Regions from separate parts of the Homo sapiens genome. Here region 1 is linked to region 2. Evidence: fine-mapped expression QTL. A gene starts in region 2. The other region holds a variant in brackets. All regions are shown on one strand. Distances are from middle to middle.

The links. PIP is the estimated chance that this variant, and not a neighbour inherited with it, causes the effect.
Region 1: its variant is the best candidate, but not a certain one, in a credible set for the expression of HTRA1 in whole blood (Lepik 2017, PIP 0.81).

Annotation. Positions count from the first base shown.
Region 1 is chr10:122,537,027-122,548,197 of GRCh38, forward strand. No RefSeq gene overlaps it. Among named protein-coding and RNA genes, the nearest start is that of DMBT1, 18 kb to the right of the region's middle. The variant C/T (reference allele first, on the strand shown) is at 6,544.
Region 2 is chr10:122,457,041-122,467,636 of GRCh38, forward strand. HTRA1 (HtrA serine peptidase 1) reads left to right here and starts at 4,513. Exons shown (of 9, transcript NM_002775.5): 1 at 4,513-5,084. The coding sequence starts at 4,613. ARMS2 (age-related maculopathy susceptibility 2) reads left to right here. Exons shown (of 2, transcript NM_001099667.3): 2 at 1-312. It overlaps HTRA1-AS1 (HTRA1 and ARMS2 antisense RNA 1), which reads right to left and starts at 4,365. Exons shown (of 3, transcript XR_946382.3): 1 at 3,909-4,365; 2 at 1,455-2,871.

The DNA.
Region 1 (11,171 bases), 80 kb after region 2:
ATAGAAACATACCTAGGAAAAAGTTTAACCAAGGCGATAAAAGGCTTGTACACTGAAAACTATAAAATATTGATGAAAGAAATTGAAGAAGACACAAATAGAAAAGATAGCCCATGTTCATGAATTGAAAGAATTAATATTGTTAAAATGTCCATGCTACTCTAAGCAATCCACAGATTCAATGCAATCCTTATCAAAATTTTAATGATTTTTTTACATAAATATAAAAAAAATCTGAAATTTGTATGGAACCACAAAAGACCTCAAATAGCCAAAGCAATCCTGAGCAAAAAGAACAAAGCTGGAGGCATCACACTACCTGAATTCAAAATATACTACAAAGCTATAGTAATCCAAACAACATGGTATCGGCATTTAAAAAAAGACATATAGGTCGGGCGCAGTGGGTCACACCTGTATTCCCAGCACTTTGGGAATCCAAGGTGGGCAGATCACTTGAGGTCAGGAGTTTGAGACCAGCCTGGCCAACATGGTGAAATCCTGTCTCTACTAAAAATACAAAAATTAGCCAGGTGTGGTGGCGGACACCTGTAGTCCCAGCTACTCAAGAGGCTGGAGCAGGAGAATCACTTGATGGGAGGAGGGTGAGGGATAAAAGACTACAAACTGGATTCAGTGTATACTAGTTGGGTGATGGGTGCACCAAAATCTCACAAATCACCACTAAGGAACTGACTCATGTAACCAAATACCACCTCTTCCTAGAACCGATAAGTGAATTCAGCAAAGTTTCAGGATACAAAATTAGTGTACACAAATCATTAGCTCTGCTATACACCAACAGTGACCAAGCTGAGAATCAAATGAAGAACTCAATCTCTTTTATGATAGCTGCAAAAATAAAATAAATACTTAGGAATATATCTAACTGAGGAGGTGAAAGACCTCTACAGGGAAAACTACAAAACTCGGCTGAAAGAAATCATAGATGCCACAAACAAATGGAAACACATCGCATGCTCATGGATGGGTAGAATCAATATTGTAAAAGTGACCATACTGCCAAAACAATCTAAAAATTCAATGCAATTCCCATCAAAATACCACCATCATTCTTCACAGAACTAGAAATCCGATCATTTTCAACAACATGGATGAATCTGGAGGACATTTCATGAAGTGAAATAAGCCAGGCACAGAAAAATACTGCGTGATTTCACTTATATGTGGAATTTTTAAAAAGCTGAACTCACAGAAGCAGTGCAGAATGGTGGTTACCAGGGGCTGGGAGTGGGGAGTGTTGGGGAGATGTTGGTCAAATGCAAAATTTCAGTTAGGAGGAATAAGTTCAAGAGATCTATTGTAAAACATGGTGACTATAGTTAATAACAATGTATTGTATTCTTGAAAATTGCTGAGAGTAGATTTTAAGTGTTCTCACTACCAAAAAATAAGTCTGTGAGGTTACGCATATGTCAATTAGCTCAATTTAGCCATTCCACAATGTATACATACTTCAAAATAACATGTTGTACATGACAAATATATACAATTTTCATTTATCAATGAAAACACATAAACAAATAAGTATTTGTTCACACACACACACACACACACACACACACACAAAATAAAGAAACACCACTCTGGCTGCTGTGGGGAGAGCCTACCACAGAGTACTAAGAGTTGAGGCCAGGACAACAGCTTTCCAGGGGGGAAGGGAACAACTTGGACTGGGACGCTGGAAGCTGGCAGCAAAGATGGGTTGGGATATATTTTGGCTCTGGCACCACCAGGACGTGTCTATGGATTGTATATGGGAGATATGAGAAGTAGGGGAAAAGGGGAAACCCTAGTGCTCTCTGCTGTACCACACTGCCTTGGATGGCCCTGGAGGTCACTGGAGCCTATATGCTGCTGGATGGCCTTCACACGTGGTTCCAACACTTCACGGGACTGGGAGCTCGTGCTCCACACAGCCCCCTGGAAACTCTTGACCTGGGAGAAAGCACCTTCCCAGGATGCGTTGTATTTTACTTTTCTGCAACATCCACCTGGTGTTACTTCCAGTTCTCCTCTCTGGAGGTACAACAAGGAGAATCCATTCCTTTTCCTAAGAACTTCCTCCAAAAACTTTGAGACTTCATCCTTCTTGGGTCTTTTCCTGCTTTAAGAAATGAGTGTTTCTCTCAAGAGCTAGAGGAAGGACTTCCATATCCTTCCATATCCTGGTCTGTGCTGGTGTTTCTGCTTCTTACATGTTCTTTCTTAGTCTTTCTCTCTTCCCTCACACCCCTCTTTTGACCATTCATTTAAAAGCCCCACATGTGCACACAGCCACTCACACATGCATGCACACTGATCTCTAAAATGGCAGGATTGATATTCTTTTTTTTTTTTTTTACTCATCTCTGTACCCCAGGTGCTGAGGTGTTTGGGAATAACAAACAACCTCCTACATCATCCAACTATGGCATCATTTTTATGAGCTTCTTGATTATTTTGCAATCAAAAACTTCAATAATTGTTTTTCTTATGTATGTATGTTATGTATGTGCCATAGATTTGAACAATACCAAAATTTATACAGAAAAAGAGGAAGGTCACCTCATAAATGTACATTGCCACTTTCAGAGGTAAATAGTCTTCATGTTTTCCATTCAGTGACCCAAGATCTCTGGGTCACCGGGCCTGGAGATGATCTTGACAGTGGAGGAATCAGCATTAAATAGGTGGAATCTCACTGGGAGGAAGTGGGTCCTTTTCAGGTGTCCTGCACTTGTCTGTTAGGTCAAGACATCTCAGTTTGGGGTTAGCCTCTACCACTGTCTAACAACCAAGGTGCTCCCATTTAACAACGAGAGAGCACAACTCAGGCTTTGATCTATACTAACCCAACTGACTTTTTGAAATGTAGAATGTGTCTTTCAGAGCACATTTGCCACCTCCAGGAGCTCAGGACATGAGAAGTAAACATATGAGAAGAAATTTGACAATGCCAGGTGGCGCATAGAAAATGCCAAATTATTGGGAAGACATTTTCTTATGCTCCACCAAAGGGGGCAGCTCGAGGTGAGTCCTGGACAGTGAATGTGGCTACAGAGGTAGAGCTAGGCTGCTGCAAGCAATTGAAAAGAGCTGGAGAAGAGTAAGTGCTGTTACTAGGACACAGGTGGGTAGGAGAAGAAAGTCTGCAGAGAGGCAGGTGGGCTGCCTGGAGTTGGCGTAACACCTGGAATGTCAAACTTGGAAGTCTGTGCTTTAGGCCAAGGGCATTGAAGATGTCTGGAAGATTCTTCTCATGGCAGCTGGAAATACAGGACAAAAGGCTAAAGAATTGATTCAAAGCCCCAAGAAGATAAGACAAAGAAGCAGGCTATTTTGAGTCTCCAGATCCACGAAGAACTGCTGTAGAGATGAAGCTAAGCCTCCTTGTAGGGCCAGGCATGTGCGTCTCTCCTTGTTCAGGGTGCACACAAGGCTGTGCCTGGTTCCTGCTGGCTTCTGCAGCCTCATCTCTCACCACTCACTTCCTAGACTTTCTTCTGCACTCACAATCCTCCCAGTGTCTGGTGCTTGCTGCTATCTTTCCGCGCTGCGCATGCTAAACCTTCTGCCCTAATGCTCTCCCCATTGTCACTACCTGCCCCCCGCTTCCTTTCTGCCTATTCTTCTTTCATGACTTGGCCCAGCTACCGCCTTCAGGACTTGATGCTCTTACTCTGTGCCACTCTCTCCAGCAAGGGGACTCTCCTAGGTGCCCTCATGGTCTCTTTGGTTACCTGATTGCACTGTGTTGTTATTACCTGCTTGCCTAGGTCTCCCCACCTGCATCGTAAGCTCTTCAGGGACCTTATTTTATTCATGCTGACTCTCAATGCCTGGGCCAAGACCTGACATGGAGTAGGTATTCTATAATTTATTAGTGAATGGATGATGCGGATTAACTCTTCATTTGTCTTCCAGGAGCTAGTTTAAACTAAAGCAAAATGTTGTGTGTTATGAAGCATCAGAAAGGATGTAAGGATGGCGAGACCCTAGGACTGTGGTTCTCAAGTGTTGGGCCATGGCCTCTTGATGTGTTATAAATTCTTCTCAAAAGGGTCAATGGATTTGGATCAACATATGAAATAACTTTTGTTAAAATAAATGATATATATTGTTCTGATAGTGTTCATCACAGGCTCATTGAATGAAGCCGGACATTTGAAGTGAAGTAGCTTTTCTCCTGACCTTTCTTCCAAGGAAGAGTTAAGAGGCTTAGTGTAAAATTGAGCCTGAGCCAGATGTGAACATGAGTATAGAAAAGAGTCCAGACAGGGCAATAAACATTCCTGACCAGGGATATGCTGGTAAACAGCAGTCAAGGGAATATCACACTAACTGTGGATGCTTTCATAGGCAGCATGAAAATTCTATTGTAATCTTTAGTGTTGTTTTGAGTCTTTTATTCTTTAAGATCCTGCGAAAATTCTAGGCGGAAAGCCCTGCCCTAGAAAGAGTTCCTGAGTGACCAGTCCGCCAGTCAGTAGGTGGCAAGTCTTCGGGCAGAGACTATGGGAGATGTTCCTTAAGCCTGATACCATTTTTTCAAATCAATAAAATGATAAAAAGCCAAGGACTGCCTTCCTCTTGTTTTTACAAAACTGTCACCCTTTGGCAAGTTTTGTAAATGTGTGTTGTAATCCAGATTATTTAATCATTTCCTGGCAGCAATAGTTTTTCAGTCATGCTGTTCATGGGTAAATGATTTTCAGAGTGATAAGAGAAAGGGCGCTGACAATGGGCTTACAGTGTGAACGCTTCTGTTTTTTATAACTTGCCTAAAATTGCATCACAGGTTGGATTTCAATCATGATTTGGTGACTAGCTCCCTTTCATATATAACCTTTCTATATTTTCACGAATTTTGTGCTTGCTTGATGTATAGTGTCTGAGCTAAAATCTCCCATGATGGTTGTGGTTTTATTAATTTCCGCTTGCAATTATGTGAGGTTTTGCTCAGGATGTTTCAAGATTATTTTGGTAGATGCAACCAAATTTTGGTGCAATGTTTCTTTTATTCTTATGTAGCCATCCTCTTTATGTCTGTTAATAATTTTTACTATAAATTACATAATATTTTACTATAAATTAATATCACCATGCAAACTTTTGTTGAGTACTTGCATAGTACATCTTTTCCCAATCTTTCTATGTCATTTTGTTTTAGGCATAACTTTTATAGATAGGACAGAAGCAGCCTGATTAAAAAAATACATATGGATAGTCTCTTTTAAAAAGTTAGTTTAATCCATTTCTGTTTAGTGTGATTTCTTATACATTTAAACTTTATTTCAAACATCTTCTGTATTTTCTATTTACCATCCTTGTTGTTTGCATTTCTTTCCCAGCCTGTCTTTGAAGTTTATTAGTGTTCCCCTTTCTATTTCCTTTGCTGATGTGGAAGCTGTAAATTGTGCATTTCTTATTTTTAATTCTTACCCTTAAATTTTACATTTTAAATTAATACTTAACTCTAACTTTTTTCTAGAAAAACTTAAAGTTATTCAGTATCTATCCCAAATGAGTGTAGTAGTTACTGGCATTTTGATAACTTCTTTGTGATGTGTTTATTATGTGTAAACATGTCTTCAGGCAGCAATGTTATCATAGCTCACTACACCTACATGCAGGCTTACAAATACTTTGAGTGTCTTTTTTTTTTTTTTTGAGACAGAATCTTGCTTTGTCACCCAGGCTGGAGTGTAGTGGCTTGATCTTGGCTCGCTGCAACCTCTGTCTCCAGGGTTCAAGCGATTCTCCTGCCTCAGGTTCCTGAGTGGCTGGGATTACAGGTGCCCACCACCATGCCTGGCTAATTATTGTGTATCTATTGTTTTGAGTACTTTGTCTTCAGTTCTCTTGAGAAGAGATTTTCAATTGCTTCTGGAAACTGCTCTATCCATTTGAGTGGGCATTGCCATGGTCTTGAAGATGCCACAGGTGGCCTTACTTAGCTGATTGGCTCAAGGGTAAGCATATGACCTAAATTAGCCCAATCAGAATCCTTCACCAATTTTTTGAATAGGAACAGAAAAAAAGAGGGCTTGTCCTCTCTAGTCATGGATGCTGTGACATATGGGATGTCAGCACTATCAGCACAATTCCTCTAATCCACAGTGGAAGAGAATGAAGAAAAGAGCAAAAACCCTCCAAAAGACAAATGATTAAATGCCACTAGGATCTTTGGGAGAGGGGCCAAGAGAAAGTGCAAGAGACTCTCCGCAGGCTGTGTGCGTGAACACAAAGGCCCATAATCGTGACTTTTTAAGGAACACTGGAAGTGAGCATGGTCAAAGGATGAAAATGTTGCTCATACATATAGATATGCCACCATCCAAAGACAGACAAAGGAAGACACTAAGGAATAGAAAGATGAGCTGGAGTGGGAATGAAGAAAAGTTTATAAAATCAGGAAAGGGGAAATGTTAAAACAGTTATTCTTTGAAGTCCATGAATGTGGCTCATTTAGAACAAGGAAAGGCAACATGAAGCATGTTATGTGGCAGGAGATACATTCTTAGAATATGTGAACCTGAG[C/T]GTGCTGCTGCTGAAATATGAAATTCAAAATGAATTTTGAAAAAAAAAAAAACCCTGAATGATAGGCTTCATTTCATATTTGGCTTCCATCTGAATCTCTTTTTGTTCTCTGGGTGTGTTTGTGCATGCACACACGTGCACATGTGCTTAATTAGGGGAGAGGCTGCAGCTTAGCCAGGTGAGAGGTGAGGGAGCATGACCATTGGCCAGTCCAGCCCAATCCTGTTTCTGCAGGTCTCAGAGGAAGACAGAGGGGATATTGCCCCAGCAGGGCCGGGACAGAGAGAGACGAGCATTTTCCTTTCTTCATTTTGGGCAGTGGCTAACAACGTTTATCTCATGACTTTTGTGCATTGTTCCCCATAAAAAAGGGTGACTAAGAGTTGTGGAAGCTCATGTTGTAAATGTTTGAAAACATGTAGATTTTACCATCTGGGGGTGGTTCAAGAGGTGTTTTAACTGGAAGACTGAGAGGTAGATAAGTTGGCTTCTTACCAAGTCCCTTCTTGTCAAGAGATCCTCAGATATTACAGATATGTGATCTGTGATGAAGACAGTTGTGGCTGGCAAGCCCCGGCCAGATGCCCTAACGAAGAGCATCTGAATGCACACTCTGCAGCTTTAGGTGTCATTTCAGAGCTCATGGTGACAGATGGCTGCAACATTCTGGATGCCTCCCGGAGGCAAAGAGAAACAGTGGGAGCGGCATAGGAAGGCTGTGAAAGAGGTCCTGAGGGAGAATACCCATGCCAGGTGCATGCATGCCAACGGGAAAGTAGTTAGCATGAAGACAGGCAGGGGCTAGTGTAGCAGGCAGTCTCAGGCCTGGTAGCCATGCCAGGGACAAGATGCCCACAGCTCGTCAGCAATACCCAGTCTGAATTCTGAGACCAGGCTGCCAGGTGTGGAGTAGGCTGGTGAGAGGGTAACCAAGAAGGCCCTGAAAGAAAGCCAGGCCAAGCCAGAAGGAAAGAGAAGGAGACTGACCAGGAAGACCGTGGGAAAAGAGTAAGGCCTTGCGGAGAGGAGCAATAAGTTGTGGGCACTGACTGTGTGAGGTGACAGAGCTGAGGGTGATTGAGGGGGGCTGGGTGACTTGCGTTGGTAGCATGAACAGGAAGCTGCCCTCAAGTCCTTAGCCACTCCAGTCACAGTCATTGCCCCACAAAGAGAGCTGACGTAATCCGCCCCTTGCACCGGGTTTCCGGGGTGCGGTGGGGGTCCTGCTGTGGATACTCATTAATAGGCAGATAGGTGGCTCAGTCCTTCTTCTGGAACAGTCACCTGGAGATGGCCCCTTGCACAGTGTGGAAGCTGAGTGAGATGGCACTTCTCCCATGGAGGCCATGGTGGCCTCCTGTCACTTTCCCATCCCCTTCCTGTCCATGCATCCCCCAGCTGAACTGTGTTGATGCAAAGGAGGAGAAACTGGGGCCCCACAATGGGCTTCTGCCTTGGAATGACAAGCAACTCCCTGCCATGGCCCACAGAAGCCCCTTCCCTGGGAGACCTTTCCCGAGGCTGAATGATGCCATGGGGGGCAGGAAGTGTTGCAGCCATTAGTTTGAATTTGGGCACCATGGTCTGGCTTCTCTGAGCTCTGTCTTCTCATCTCTAGAATGAGGAGAGGAAGAAGGACTGGGCTTGAATGTTTGCTGACATCCTTGTTAGCTCTCAGATCCTGGTATTTAAGGGACCCTTCAACTTCAGGTGGGGCAGTTTCTAAGCAGAGAAGAAAAGGGGTATTGAATATGCATGAAGGAATGGGGCCTTCTTTCTTCCTGTGGGTTTAAGGCTGGGTACTCCTGCTCTCTTGTTTAAGAGACATGGTCTCTGTCGCCCAGGCTGGAGTGCAATGGTGCAATCTCATTGTAACCTGGAACTCCTGGGCTTAAGCGATCTTCCCACTTTAGCCTCTTGACTAGCTAAGACTGCAGGCACACGCCACCATGCCTGGCTAATTTTTAAGTTTTTTTTTTTTTTTTTCTAGAGGCAGGGTCTCATTATGGTGGCCCGGCTGGCCTTGAACTCATGCCTCAGGCCTCCCAAAGTGCTGGGATTACAGGCGTGAGCCACCACACCCAGCCTCTGTTGTTAGAAGGCCAACCCAACTGCCATTTTTATTTCTATTTTCTCAGCTAAAATGGAAAGAGAACTTTAAAGATTTCTTTGAGCAAGCTGATGCTTAGGAAGCCAGACTAATCTCCACCCCCAAATAGCTAGGAAATGATTTTTCAATGTACAAAGGGAGTCCTCACAGCCAACCTCCCTAAGTTCCCATAAAAATAGAGTTTCATTCACAGAATGCTACATATTCTGGGACGGTTTTGTTATGTGAAGAAGAATGTAATGAAGAACATTTCTAGGGGTGACATGTGACCCATAAATCCTTTGGGATTAGGTGGGTGCCTATGTATGATGGTATGTTGTTCATTTTATTATTTTGTGCCTTATTTGAAAGTTATATTTATCCTTTAGAAATTCACTAGTATGGTTGATACATTGAATAAACATAATCCATGGTATAATCAAAACGCAAACTTACTTTTTGTCTTTGCACCTTAATTTTTTTTTTTTTTTTTGAGACGGAGTCTCGCACTGTCGCCCAGGCTGGAGTGCAGTGGCGCGATCTCGGCTCACTGTAACCTCTGCCTCCCGGGTTCATGCCATTCTCCTGCCTTAGTAGTATCTTTCCCTGCTCCAGGACGAAAACTTGCGTGGGTCCTTCTTCAGTAACAGAGTGCTATGGTTACTTTAAATCACAGAGCAGAGTTTTGGGGCTGGCCACCTGGGGGCCAGCAGAGGCATGGGCACTAAACCCAGATGCTTGGACAGTAGAGTCACCCACCACTGCTTGAGCCAACTGGCCTGGGCAGGAAGCATGTCACACAAGATCTGCTTCTACAAGGCTGCAGTGACGGGCAGACTGGAGAGGACCAGGTTTCAATACAGCGTCAGAGAACCACAGGGAGAGACGGGGTCGGGGCTGAAGCACACGAGACCACATTTGGGACCTTGGCATGATCCGAGGAGGCAGGAGGACCCCTGAGGATGATGGATGTGGGCCTCCTAAGCAACACTGGGGAATGGGAGGTTTGTGGCATGGTTTGATTGAATCAAGGAAGATTAATGTGGAGATTTTTCCATCTGAATATCTCCACTGCATGTGATAAAAATACAAACATATCATCCTTCTTAAACACCTTTGTTTGGAAGGGTTATTTTATAAAAAATGTAAAGTAAAAGCTTCCCTTAATATATTTTGCTCTTTAAAAATGAAACATATTATCCTTAAAAAAAGAATGGAGCCAGGCATGGTAACTCTTGCTCAGGAGGCTGAGGGGAGAGGATTGCTTGAGTCCAGGGGTTCAAGACCAGCCTGGGCAACATAGCAAGGCCCTTGCTTCTAAAAAAATTAGACTTTCTTTTGTTATTTCATTGTAAAATTTAAAATGGTTTGGGAATTACATTTTGATCACTTGTTGCAGCAATTTGTTGAAGAGACCATTTTAAGTCCAAGTATGAATCAAATTATACCTCATTTTAAACTCATGCTAACTGCTTTCTTGTCAAGACATTAGAATTTTCTTTCTTCTTTTCTTTCTTTCTTTTTTTTTTTTTTTTTTGAGACAGGCTCTCACTTTGTTACCCAGGCTGCAGTACAGTGGCATGATCTTGGCTCTTTGCAGCCTCGACCTCCTAGGCTCAAGCGATCTCTTGCTTTAGCCCCCTACAAGTAGCTGGGACTATAGGTGTGCTCCACCACGCCCAGCTAATTTTTTTGTAGAGACAAGGTTTTGTCACGTTGCCCAGGTTTTGTCACGTTGTCTCGAACTCCTGGGCTCCAGTAATTCATCTGCCTCGGCCTCCCAAAGTGCTGGGATTACAGGTGTGAGGCACCGTGCCTGGCCTGGAATTTTCTAAAGTGGTTTGTGGTCAGACACTTGTAAGATCTGAGGACATGTTTCCCAGGAATGTGAAGGATCATCTTGACAGCATCCCATGGGGCCCAGAGTAAGCCCTACACTGCTCTGGGAAGCGTCATCCAATCCCTCAAATCCATGCAGTCCTGGCTTCTGCCAGGCACTGGCACATGCTGCCCTCCTGATACAGCATGACAGACAACCTGGGCTCTGTTAGTGGCTTTATTTTCACCTTTAAATTTAAAAAACAATTTCTTCAAGTAATAATTCAAAACAACCAGTGGTTTTCTATTTCTAAAAAAGTAATCCATGACATAAATGAAGATTCGAACTTATGAATGTCTAGGCACTGCCAGGTACTGTCTCAGAAATCTTTCACTATCGTCCATCTAACTCTTAGCTGTTCTCCAAATTCAAGCTTACAGAGGTCTTTGATTTCACCTAAGTTTTTTTTCTTAAAATCAAGTGTCTTCTGAGGTTTGTAGTGCACATCTCTAGTGCCAGTTCTGATTCACAGGTCTTGAAGTGGCTTAGTGGTTTTCATCGGTTATTTTCCAACGCACCAGTGACTTTTCTCCCCAGCTGGATTATAAATTCCTCAGGCTGGGATTGCAGCTTTCCAGACCCCTGGCACAGGCTATTTGGTGCAGTTGTGCTCAAGAAATGTGTGCATCTCCATGCATCTCAATACAGACACACCGCCAT
Region 2 (10,596 bases):
GGTCCCCTTCCCTCCAGCTGCCTCAACTGTCCACAGGACTCTCTTCCCACCTGCGGCCACACTGTGCAACCTGGAATTTCCCCACCTGGGCGGACTCATCACGTCATCACCAATTGGATGCATCTTCTGCTCTGTGCAGCTGGTGAAATCTTTCTCAACCCTTGAGATGCAGCCCAATCTTCTCCTAACATCTGGATTCCTCTCTGTCACTGCATTCCCTCCTGTCATCCTGCCTTTGTTTTCTTGCCCTCCTTTCTCTCCCGGGTGATAGGCATTAACTAAAATTAAATAAAAATTCAGATCATCCTTGCACTTGCTGCATTTCAAATGCTTGGCAGTCACATGTAGTTAGTGGCTACCCTCTTGGACAGCACAGATAGAGATTATTTCCATCACTGCAGAAAATTCTAGACTTTGAGCTTCTTGAGGACAGGGGCTTGATCATTCGACACTGCTTTACAGTGTCTAGCAGTGTCTACCCTGTGGCAGGGGCTCAGGAAATTTTTCCTGAACCGAACCTAACTGAACTGATGTGGGTTTGTCATCAGGGTGTACCTGCTGTTAAAGGAGGTTACGACCTCTGATGCTGGGGTGGCCAGAGGGGATGGGAGTGGGTCTGGCACTCTGAGGAAAGGGGGTGAAACCAGCTGAGAAGTCATCTTTTACCTGCTGGCATGGCCCCAGCCAGGGTTCTGTTGCTATGGGAGAATGGGTGAGTAGGGATGGATTACACCACCCTGGATCTAGAGGACAACCTGGCTTGAGGGGCATGGGGGACGCTGGAAGTCAGGGTAAGAAGCTTGGACTTCATTCTACTGGCATGGAGAGCCCCTGGAAACTACTGAGCAGTAGAGGGATAGGCTAAGCTTATAGGAGGAGCCAAAATTATTACTGTAGCTCCTTAGATCTTAGATCCTGTGACTTAGGAAAGGCAATAGGAGCCCCTGAGCATTCTGGGTCCTTTGTACATTTGGGAGAACAGAGGCCCGGAGTGGGAAATCGTCCTCCTGGGCAGCACAAACATGGCTGCTCCATTCCTATTCAGAAGCCTCGTTTCCTGATTAAGGCTCTGGCATCTGTGGTGTTTCATTGTTCATTATTCATGAATAGACTTGGCCCTGTTCAAAACTAAAGCTTCAATGCTGCAAATGAGGGCTGCAGAGAGGATGTTGGGGAACTCGTCTGTTTGGCTTCAAAACTGCCCCCTTTCCTCTGGAAAAATCCTCTCTAGAATACCGTGCCAAGGCCTGGTGAGTGAGAAATGAGTTTTCATGATGTATCAAAAGAAAAATGCTTCTTTTAAGAAAACGTCTTTATAAATGGCAGCAGATGGGGAAGAATCTAAAAGAAAGAGCAACGCTTGCAGGTTGAAAGCATTACCTCCAGATATGGAGACGTTAGGACTAAGGGAAGGTCAGAGATGGGCCCACGAGGCCAGGTTTCAATGGACTTACCATTTCCTTCTTCGTGCATCCACTGATGGACACACGTAGGCACACGCACCAACAGCCTCCCATGTGGACAGTCCAGGGTGCCCAGAACCCTTCCAGCAAGACTTTGATTTCTGTTTCGAAGGATTTCTTGAGGCCCCTCTGTAGAGCTGCTTGTCTTCTTCATAACCGGTGCCTGGGTCAGAGCAGGTGGGGTGAGCTGCACTCACAGCTGGGAGGTGAGTCTGTGATCTCATTGTGCAGTGGCCCTGCCAGGTTGCTCTTTCTAAAACCTTGGGTATTGCAAATTCTGCTTCTTAGGGACCGCTTGGTCCCCCAGTCCTCCCCCTGCTGACTCCCTTCCTGATGAAGCCACCAGCATGGCTCTCAGGGTAGTGCTGTCTTCCTTCTCTAGAACAGCCACGTGGCCCCAGGGCTGGCACTTACTGGTCACCGTGGTTACAGACGCCTCTTCTAGGCTGTGAACTGTCACAGGAGTGGGTCCACTTCGGCCGACACTTCCTCAGGGGTATTAAGTAGCTGGGGGTCCCCCTGAGTCTCCATCACCCTCTTACCCATTCTCCACCCCCTCCCCCACCACACATACACTCTACTCCCCCAGTGCTGAATAACTTGCCAAAGCACTGTGCTGGCACTGGGGCATGGTAAAGAAGACGGGGCCTCTGCCCTAGGGAGGAGGTGATGAGGGCAGGAATAGCAGCACAGAGGGTGAGAGGCAGAGACAATGGCACTGAGTGGGGGCACGAGGATGGAAGAGGAGCATGCTAGATGGGACGATGGGACCCAGCACTGACCAAATAGAAGCTTGTGGGTGGCACATCAGTCACTCCAGGGACATATGTGGTCACTGCCATTTTCCTAATGAAACTCCTCCAGTTATTAAACAAAGGCCCAGAGTCACAGACTTAAGGACCAGAAGTGGGATTTGAACCCAAGTCCCCCAGATGACAGGGCTCCCACGTGCTTCTCTAGGTCACATGAGCCCACGCTGGAGGGGAGGAGGGGTGTTTCAAGAAGAGGGGAGATGTGGGCAAAGAAAGGCACAGAGACCGTAAGCAGACAGGTGTGTTCCAGAAAATGCAAGTTATTTGGCACTGGGGGAGCAGAATGTATATGTGGTGGGGGAGGGGTGGAAAATGGGTGAGAGGGTGGTGGAGACTCAGTGGGATCCCCAGCTACTTAATTCCCCAACAGGGAAAGAGCCTAGAAACTCCCTCCACCTCCCGCAAAGCAGTGGGGAAGTTGCGGCCACACTGTTTTCGGTCCGCTCATTCCCTCTGCAGTCTGGCTGCTCAGGGGGATGGAGGAGGATGGGGCTTGCAGGCAGGCACAGCCGGTTTGGAAGGTGTCCTGGCTCCAGCACTCAACTTGTGGCATGACACTCAGGGGAGTCACCCTTTCTGGCCCTCAGTTTTCTCCTCTGTAAAATAAGGAAATTCGACAAAAATAAGTTATCACCAATTTATTCACCACCACGTGTCCTTTTAATTCCATCTGCCCCAGGACTGCAGTGGGGAGTCTTTCTTTGCCGATGGACTTCGAAAATCATCACCCCCCGCATTTTTTGTGGTTAACCACAGCTAGCCAGGAACTCAGGGCTTCTCATCAGCAGAGGCCTCTGCCTCTCCAGTATCCAGGGCCGAATGGATTTTGGGTCAAGGCCTCCCTCCCGCAGCCAGGAGGCCCTGGCTTTATGGAATATCGCTTGGAGTCCAGGGAGTCAGCATGGGGACCCCGACAGCTTTCCCATGCCCCAGGCTCCTGGGCCTTTCTGGGGGACCCCTCTGGACCTTGGGCATTAACAAGGTTCATATTTGGAAGGTGCTTTGAGGGGGCTTATAGGTATTTGGAGTTTACTTTTTAAACTATTTGTATTGGAAAAATAACGTGTGCACAAGGGAACAACCCAAATACAGAAGAATATTAAAATCCCCAAGCCCCCAGCCCCCTCCCATGCTACTCTATCCCAAAGTCAGCTCTGCCGGCTCACCCAACCCTGGGTGCCTCTGCCCAGGGTGGGGGTGGAGGTTTGAGGGTTCGGGATGAGGGCTGGACGAAGGGCCTCCTCTCAGGTCCTTGGACACGAGCTGTGCCCATCTGCTCAGTGTGGACCCAGGACTACTGCCCACAGGCCTGGTGCTGCCTGGGCACCCAGACCCACCTCCAGGGTCGCCCTCAGCCCTCCTGATGACTCTCGGACTCGCATCTGTCCCAACGGATGCACCAAAGATTCTCCAGTGGGAAATCAAATTTTTGATAACAAGTGTTTTGAAATAATCACGCACTTGGTGAAAAATCAAAAGAGGGGAAAACCCCTTTCCCATCTGAGACCGCTCCACCCTCGCCAGTTACGAGCTGCCGAGCCGCTTCCTAGGCTCTCTGCGAATACGGACACGCATGCCACCCACAACAACTTTTTAAAAGAATCAGACGTGTGAAGGATTCTATTCGAATTACTTCTGCTCTCTGCTTTTATCACTTCACTGTGGGTCTGGGCGCGGGCTTTCTGCCAGCTCCGCGGACGCTGCCTTCGTCCGGCCGCAGAGGCCCCGCGGTCAGGGTCCCGCGTGCGGGGTACCGGGGGCAGAACCAGCGCGTGACCGGGGTCCGCGGTGCCGCAACGCCCCGGGTCTGCGCAGAGGCCCCTGCAGTCCCTGCCCGGCCCAGTCCGAGCTTCCCGGGCGGGCCCCCAGTCCGGCGATTTGCAGGAACTTTCCCCGGCGCTCCCACGCGAAGCCGCCGCAGGGCCCCCTTGCAAAGTTCCATTAGTTTGAAGGACGCGAATCTCAGCGAGAGAACCTGCGGAAAGCGAATATGTGGGGCGCGCAGACGGGGAAACTGAGTCCCGCGAGAGGGCCGGCCTGTGCGCTGCCCCGCCCGCGCCCCGCCAGCACCGCCGTGCCCGGGCGCGCCCGCCCTGCCCCCTCCGCGGGCGGTCCCGGTCCAGCCGCCCGCCCTCCCTCCCGCCATCCGGCCAGCCCCCATCCCGGGCGCCGTGCCCGTCCCCAAGGCGGCTCGTCACCGCTGCGAGGCCAATGGGCTGGGCCGCGCGGCCGCGCGCACTCGCACCCGCTGCCCCCGAGGCCCTCCTGCACTCTCCCCGGCGCCGCTCTCCGGCCCTCGCCCTGTCCGCCGCCACCGCCGCCGCCGCCAGAGTCGCCATGCAGATCCCGCGCGCCGCTCTTCTCCCGCTGCTGCTGCTGCTGCTGGCGGCGCCCGCCTCGGCGCAGCTGTCCCGGGCCGGCCGCTCGGCGCCTTTGGCCGCCGGGTGCCCAGACCGCTGCGAGCCGGCGCGCTGCCCGCCGCAGCCGGAGCACTGCGAGGGCGGCCGGGCCCGGGACGCGTGCGGCTGCTGCGAGGTGTGCGGCGCGCCCGAGGGCGCCGCGTGCGGCCTGCAGGAGGGCCCGTGCGGCGAGGGGCTGCAGTGCGTGGTGCCCTTCGGGGTGCCAGCCTCGGCCACGGTGCGGCGGCGCGCGCAGGCCGGCCTCTGTGTGTGCGCCAGCAGCGAGCCGGTGTGCGGCAGCGACGCCAACACCTACGCCAACCTGTGCCAGCTGCGCGCCGCCAGCCGCCGCTCCGAGAGGCTGCACCGGCCGCCGGTCATCGTCCTGCAGCGCGGAGCCTGCGGCCAAGGTACTCCGCCGCGCTCCTGGGCAGCTCCCCACTCTCTCCATCCCAGCTCGGACCTGCTTCTGCGGGACTGGTGGGCAGGTTGAGGGGCAGCGAAGCGTTGTGGGGTGGCCAGGGCAACTCTCGGGGACAGGCAGGTGGGCCCCGGGGTGGCGGATTTCCGCGGGCTGCCTCGGAACCGAGCTTCGCGCCCAGCCCGGGGCCGGTTCTGCGCCCAGACGATGCCAGTACGCCCGGCCTGCACTCTGGGGCTCGAGACGCCGGGCGACCGGCCATGGAGTGCCCTGAGGGCAACCACACAGCGCGGGGACCCCAGGACAAATAAGAGGAATGGGGGCATAAAGGAAGGAGAGAAGTTCAGGACTGGGAATTGGCGCCTCGCAGAGCGGCTTCAGGACCACAAGAAGTCATTTCGGTTGCTTTTTCTTCTATTTACGTCCTCCGTCCCCTTTAAAATTCACTGCTTTGATCACGGGACCGCTCAGTGAAAACTGTATGTAACTCTTTTGGAAAGGAACAGTGTTTGCCGGCCCGCCCCGGAGTTTCTCCAAAAAGTCTACCCCGAGCAGGGAACGGTTTGGCACCGCTCTCGTTTCGGCGGCGTTGCTGCCTGTCTTGCTTTCCTCGTTTTGAGCCAGCCCTACAAAAATGAAAGTGGCTCCTTTTGAATAAGCTGAATCGGGCTTTGGATCACGAAATCTGCAGAGGCGGAGAAGGGACCGGGTTAGTGATGAGGAAGAAGTCTACCCCTCTGTTCCTACAGCCGCACACAGGACCTGTTCTGGCAGGGGAGACGGTGGTGATGGGGGAAGGAGTGGAATGGAGCAATGTCTAACTCTCTCGCGGGACCTTCCGGAGAGATGCTCCTCATCTTCAGGCAGAGGCCATGTGGAAAAATAATATCGAGTTCAGCAGCGGCCAGCCCCGCGTTGTAGGAACCAGACAGCGGGGCTTGGCAGTGCGCTTGGGCGCAGCCGTGCCGCTGCTGCCGGACCCCAGTGCTGCCTCCTCAACACGGGCAGTGCCAGGAGAGGGGCATAGGGGAGCACAGTGCAGAGGGACTGGTCTAGAGTTTACTTTATAGGAATATGGTTCGGTGTGACCAACTAGGGCTTAGCATAGTTTGGCTTACGTGGACGGGAAGATGCCAGAGCCGAACTGGGTGAAATTCGAGATTGCGTATTTCACCAACACAGGAGCACAGCCCTCGGGAAACTCAGCCTAGTCAGGCAGTAGAGAGTTGTCCCGGAGAGAAGTGATCCTGCAGACTCGAGAAGGGGCATGATGATAGCACACGTCTGTTGAGCACCCAGTCTGTGTGCCGGGTGTGTTACCTCTGTGACCTCATTTGGTCAAACGAGGAGGCAGTTGCTCCTCTCTCTCTCTTTTTTTTTCTTAAGAGACAGGGTCTCCCTCTGTCGCCCATGCTGGAGTGTAGTGGTGTGATCATGGCTCACTGCAGCCTCCGACCCCTGGGCTCAATGATTCTCCTGCTTCAGCCTCCCAAGTGGCTGGGACTACAGGCGGATGCCACCACACCCAGCTTCTCATTCCCGTTTTACAGATAGCGGAGCTAAGGTTGAAAAACTTGCCCAAGGTCATTCAGCTGGAATTTAAACCCAGACAGCCTCATTCAGAGGAGTCAGCCCAGCACTTAACTCCAAGGGTGTGGGAGAGGGGTCAGGTGCTGTAAATTTCCTGGTGGGCTGGACGTGCATCCCCCTCAGAGCTGGGAACAGCATACACAAAGCCTAAGACTTGTTTGGAGGTGAATAGATCAGTGTGGCTGGGGAACGTTTTGGGAGGGCAGCAGGAGTGAGCCAGGCTGGTGGCCCAGAGTCCCAGGGCTGAAGAGGCTGGCTGTGCCCCGTGCCCTGTGCGCAGATGTTCTTGAACTGGAGCAACTCAAAGCCTAGTGTAGTGTAGGGCTGACCTAGCAGTGGAGTGCGGAATGCATCCAGGGTGGAGAGTTTAGACTACTGCAATAATCTGGGTGTGAGGCGACAACATTGAAAAAGCATGTTTTTGTCCAAAACAAGCCAGCTGTTACTGGTCTCGCTGTTTGTGGTCTCATCGCACGGGGTCCTGAGTTGCTGGCACCATGCGAGCCGCCTAATTTATTGCTAGTGAGGCAAGTTGCTTAACAAGTTTTGGAGTTGGCTGAGTCCCTGTGTGGAGGAAAACAGGTCCCCCATTGGCCATCGGGCTCACAGCGGGCCCCCGGTGTACCAGTGAGGGGACAGCCACAGAGGGATAAGCATGGTGGCTTTGAAAGGAGGGAGAGACAGAGTGGGTACAATGCTTTTCTTATCCCTCCCTCCTTCTTTTGCAAATATTTATTGAGCTCTGTAGGGTGTCTGACACCGTTTGCATGTTTGTCTGTCTGGCACATCGGAGGTACTTGGTACGAGTGGATTAGTGAATGAATAAATGAATGAATGAAGACAAACGGGAGGTGCTTGCGATACACAGCCATTCTGTTTTTCCTTAGTGGAAGGCACTGCTTTGCTGCGCCCCCTCTCTGGATCTCACACTCCACCCTTGACTTTTCGGAGGTGTTTCCGAGGACAGGCGCCTGGGAGCCAGCAGACTTCATTCAGTCCAAGCCAGGCTCCAGGACTCAACAGCTGGTGCCCACGGGCAGGTCACTTGACGTCACTGTTAAATGAGGTGAATTGGCTGCCTGCTCTGGCTGGAAGATTGGCGGGAGAGTCACTTTAGCTGCCATGGACATGAGCCTTTTCTAGGGGTGCCACTTGACTAGAGGCCTGGAGTTGGAGCAAGTCATACACGGATCTGGAGACAGAGCTCTCGAGGCAGGAGCGGGTGCTGCGATTTCAAATATTATAAGGTGGCTTTGTCTGGGGCAGAGCATGCCAGGGGATGAGAGGTAGAAATGTCATCAGATCAGGGGTCCCCAGGGAGGTGACTAGCACTTTGGGTCACAGTAGATCTTTGGATAGAGGAACATGTCACCATTCAAAGGAAAGCACTTTCATCTGTAAGCTGTTTATTGAATAGACCTCAGAGAACATCTCTGCTCACCGCTCTGGAAATGAAGGCAAATCATCTATTTCAGAAGTCAATGCACTGGCAGGGTTTGGATGGGAAAGTATACAATTCAGCTAGAGAACAAAGATCTGTCATCTCCAGCTGTACTGGTCAGATGATTACAAAAAAGAAAGGAATTGAAATACTAATAGGGTACTAATAATGAGGGCTAACATATATGTTGTGCTTATTCTATGCCGGGTGCATACTAATTCATTTGATCCTCCGGACAGTCCTATGAGTGAGTGCTGTAGTCTTCCCTGGGTTACAGCTGGGCAGCTAAGTCACAGAGAAGTACCTTGCTCAGGACTGGTGGTCCCACACAACTGGATGGAGAGCCTCGTTCATAACCACCATGCTGTGCTGTTGACAGAGCAACAGAGATTTTAAACCAACCCCAGCTAAGCCCCAGCTAATAGCTGAAATAAACAGGGCTCCAGATGGCTGTGGCTTAGAGATGGAACAGGACAGATCACAGCCTTCACTCTGCAGGCTCAGGAGCCTGAAGACAAGGTTGCCTCCAGTTGCCGTCAGTGCAGCCCTCACTAAAGAAAAGCAAAAAGAGCCGAGGGACTGTAGGAAGGCTGTTTCCAAGCCAGAGATCCAGACAAACTGCTCTTGAAGAGAGAAAGCCCTTCCAGATTCCCCCATGTCCCAAAAGACCAGCCGGGATTCCGGACCTCTGCTAAAACATGGACAAGAAGCCAGGAACGAGACCTGAAACAGACTTCCCAAACAGCAGAAGCCTCATCCATTTCTCCTGCTAGTACATCCTCCAGGAAAGCCCACCCTACTCCATGCAGCAGCCCAGACAAGCTTGGAGGTCTGCAAGCTGCAGGGGTGCCCAGAAACTCCACCCCTGGAGGTTTTTAGGATCGCCTGCTCCTGGTCTCACCCCAGAGCCTCTAAAGGCAGAGGCTGTATGTACATACCTGGTGAAGAACCAAGGGCTTAGATGGTTGCTTTACTTCTTGGAGCCCTGGAATGTTTGTAAAATTTACTTTTTTTTTTGAGACAGTGTCTCGTTCTGTCGCCTACGCTGGAGTGCAGTGGCGCGATCTCGGCTCACTGCAAGCTCCACCTCCCGGGTTCATGCCATTCTCCTGCCTTAGCCTCCAGAGTAGCTGGGACTACAGGCACCCGCCACCACGCCCAGCTAATTTTTTTGTATTTTTTGGTAGAGACGGGGTTTCACCGTGTTAGCCAGGATGGTCTCCATCTCCTGACCTTGTGATCCGCCCGCTTTGGCCTCCCAAAGTGCTGGGATTACAGGAGTGAGCCACTGCACCCGTGCCAAAATGTACTTTATTTAGGTGACTCTTTCGTGGGAACCTCAAACAAGCAATCATTGCTAGCTGAGTGCTGACCCTGTACTGAGCTCTGGGGAGACAGGGTTGAATAAAACAAAGTCACTGCCCACAGGTAACTTATATTCAATACAATGGGGGAAAATACAATCACTGCTTCCCTGGGGTTGTATTTTTCCATTGTTAAAGTGGGCAGTTTGCTCGAGAGTCATTTTCACTATTGGCAATTCAAATACACCTTTTGTCAGTTAAAAAACAAGTGTGCCAGGGACCTGAGCTTCATCTTAGGGCAGGGTGGGTGGAAACATTTGTGAGTCTCCAGCTTTTAGTCACCTGAAACTTGGAAACTTGGAGGTCTTTTGAGCAGTTTATGAGTCTCTGCCTGCTCTGGTCGGCTGCCTTCTTTTATTGCTCTGTTGGTTTTGCTAAAGAGTTAAAATATTAAGGCTTCATAAAATTAGGAAGTTAACAAGCTCAAAAACCAAGTGTTTGAGTTACTTCATTCCACTGAGAGAGCTGTAAATGGGTTGCATTGGAACTTAAAATAACTGCATTGAGTAAGTGATGGTGGCGGGCACCATGAGCTAACTGTGGTCAGAAGCCTGATGGCCTCCGCTTTGGGGCTGGATTCTCCGTTTGGAGCTGTGTGATCCTGGATGAGTTTCATGCCTTGGATTCAGAAATCAGACTTTCCATGAGCTTATATTTCAAGTGAATAAATAGCTCTGGTCAGGCTTAATTTGAAGAAGAAGTAAGCTTGGCAGTGGGTGAGGGTTCCTTGGAAGGCCAACTGGGGCGGAGGGGCTGAGGGCAAGCGGCTCTGGCCCTTCCTGGGGTGTTACCTGACCAGGTAACAGCTCCCTCGACCTCTCGGAGCCTCGGCAGTGAGGGGATTGGGCCAGTTGATCTCTGAGGCTCCTTTTAACTAGAATGGTCTGGGATTTTTCTAAGAAAACAAGTCTTTGAGGAGGTTGTGGTCACCTCATTCCTAATTTAAAGCCTGGGGAGGCTTCCTTATGAGCTACTTCTTTTTCCTAAATTATTGATGGTTAAAGCCAAGGCTGGCATCGAATAGATGTGATCCATCTTGAGCCTGGTTGCTTTGTGTTTCAGCTTTGTACTGGCTGCTGAAGTCCCCGGGAGACCACAGGGGTGAC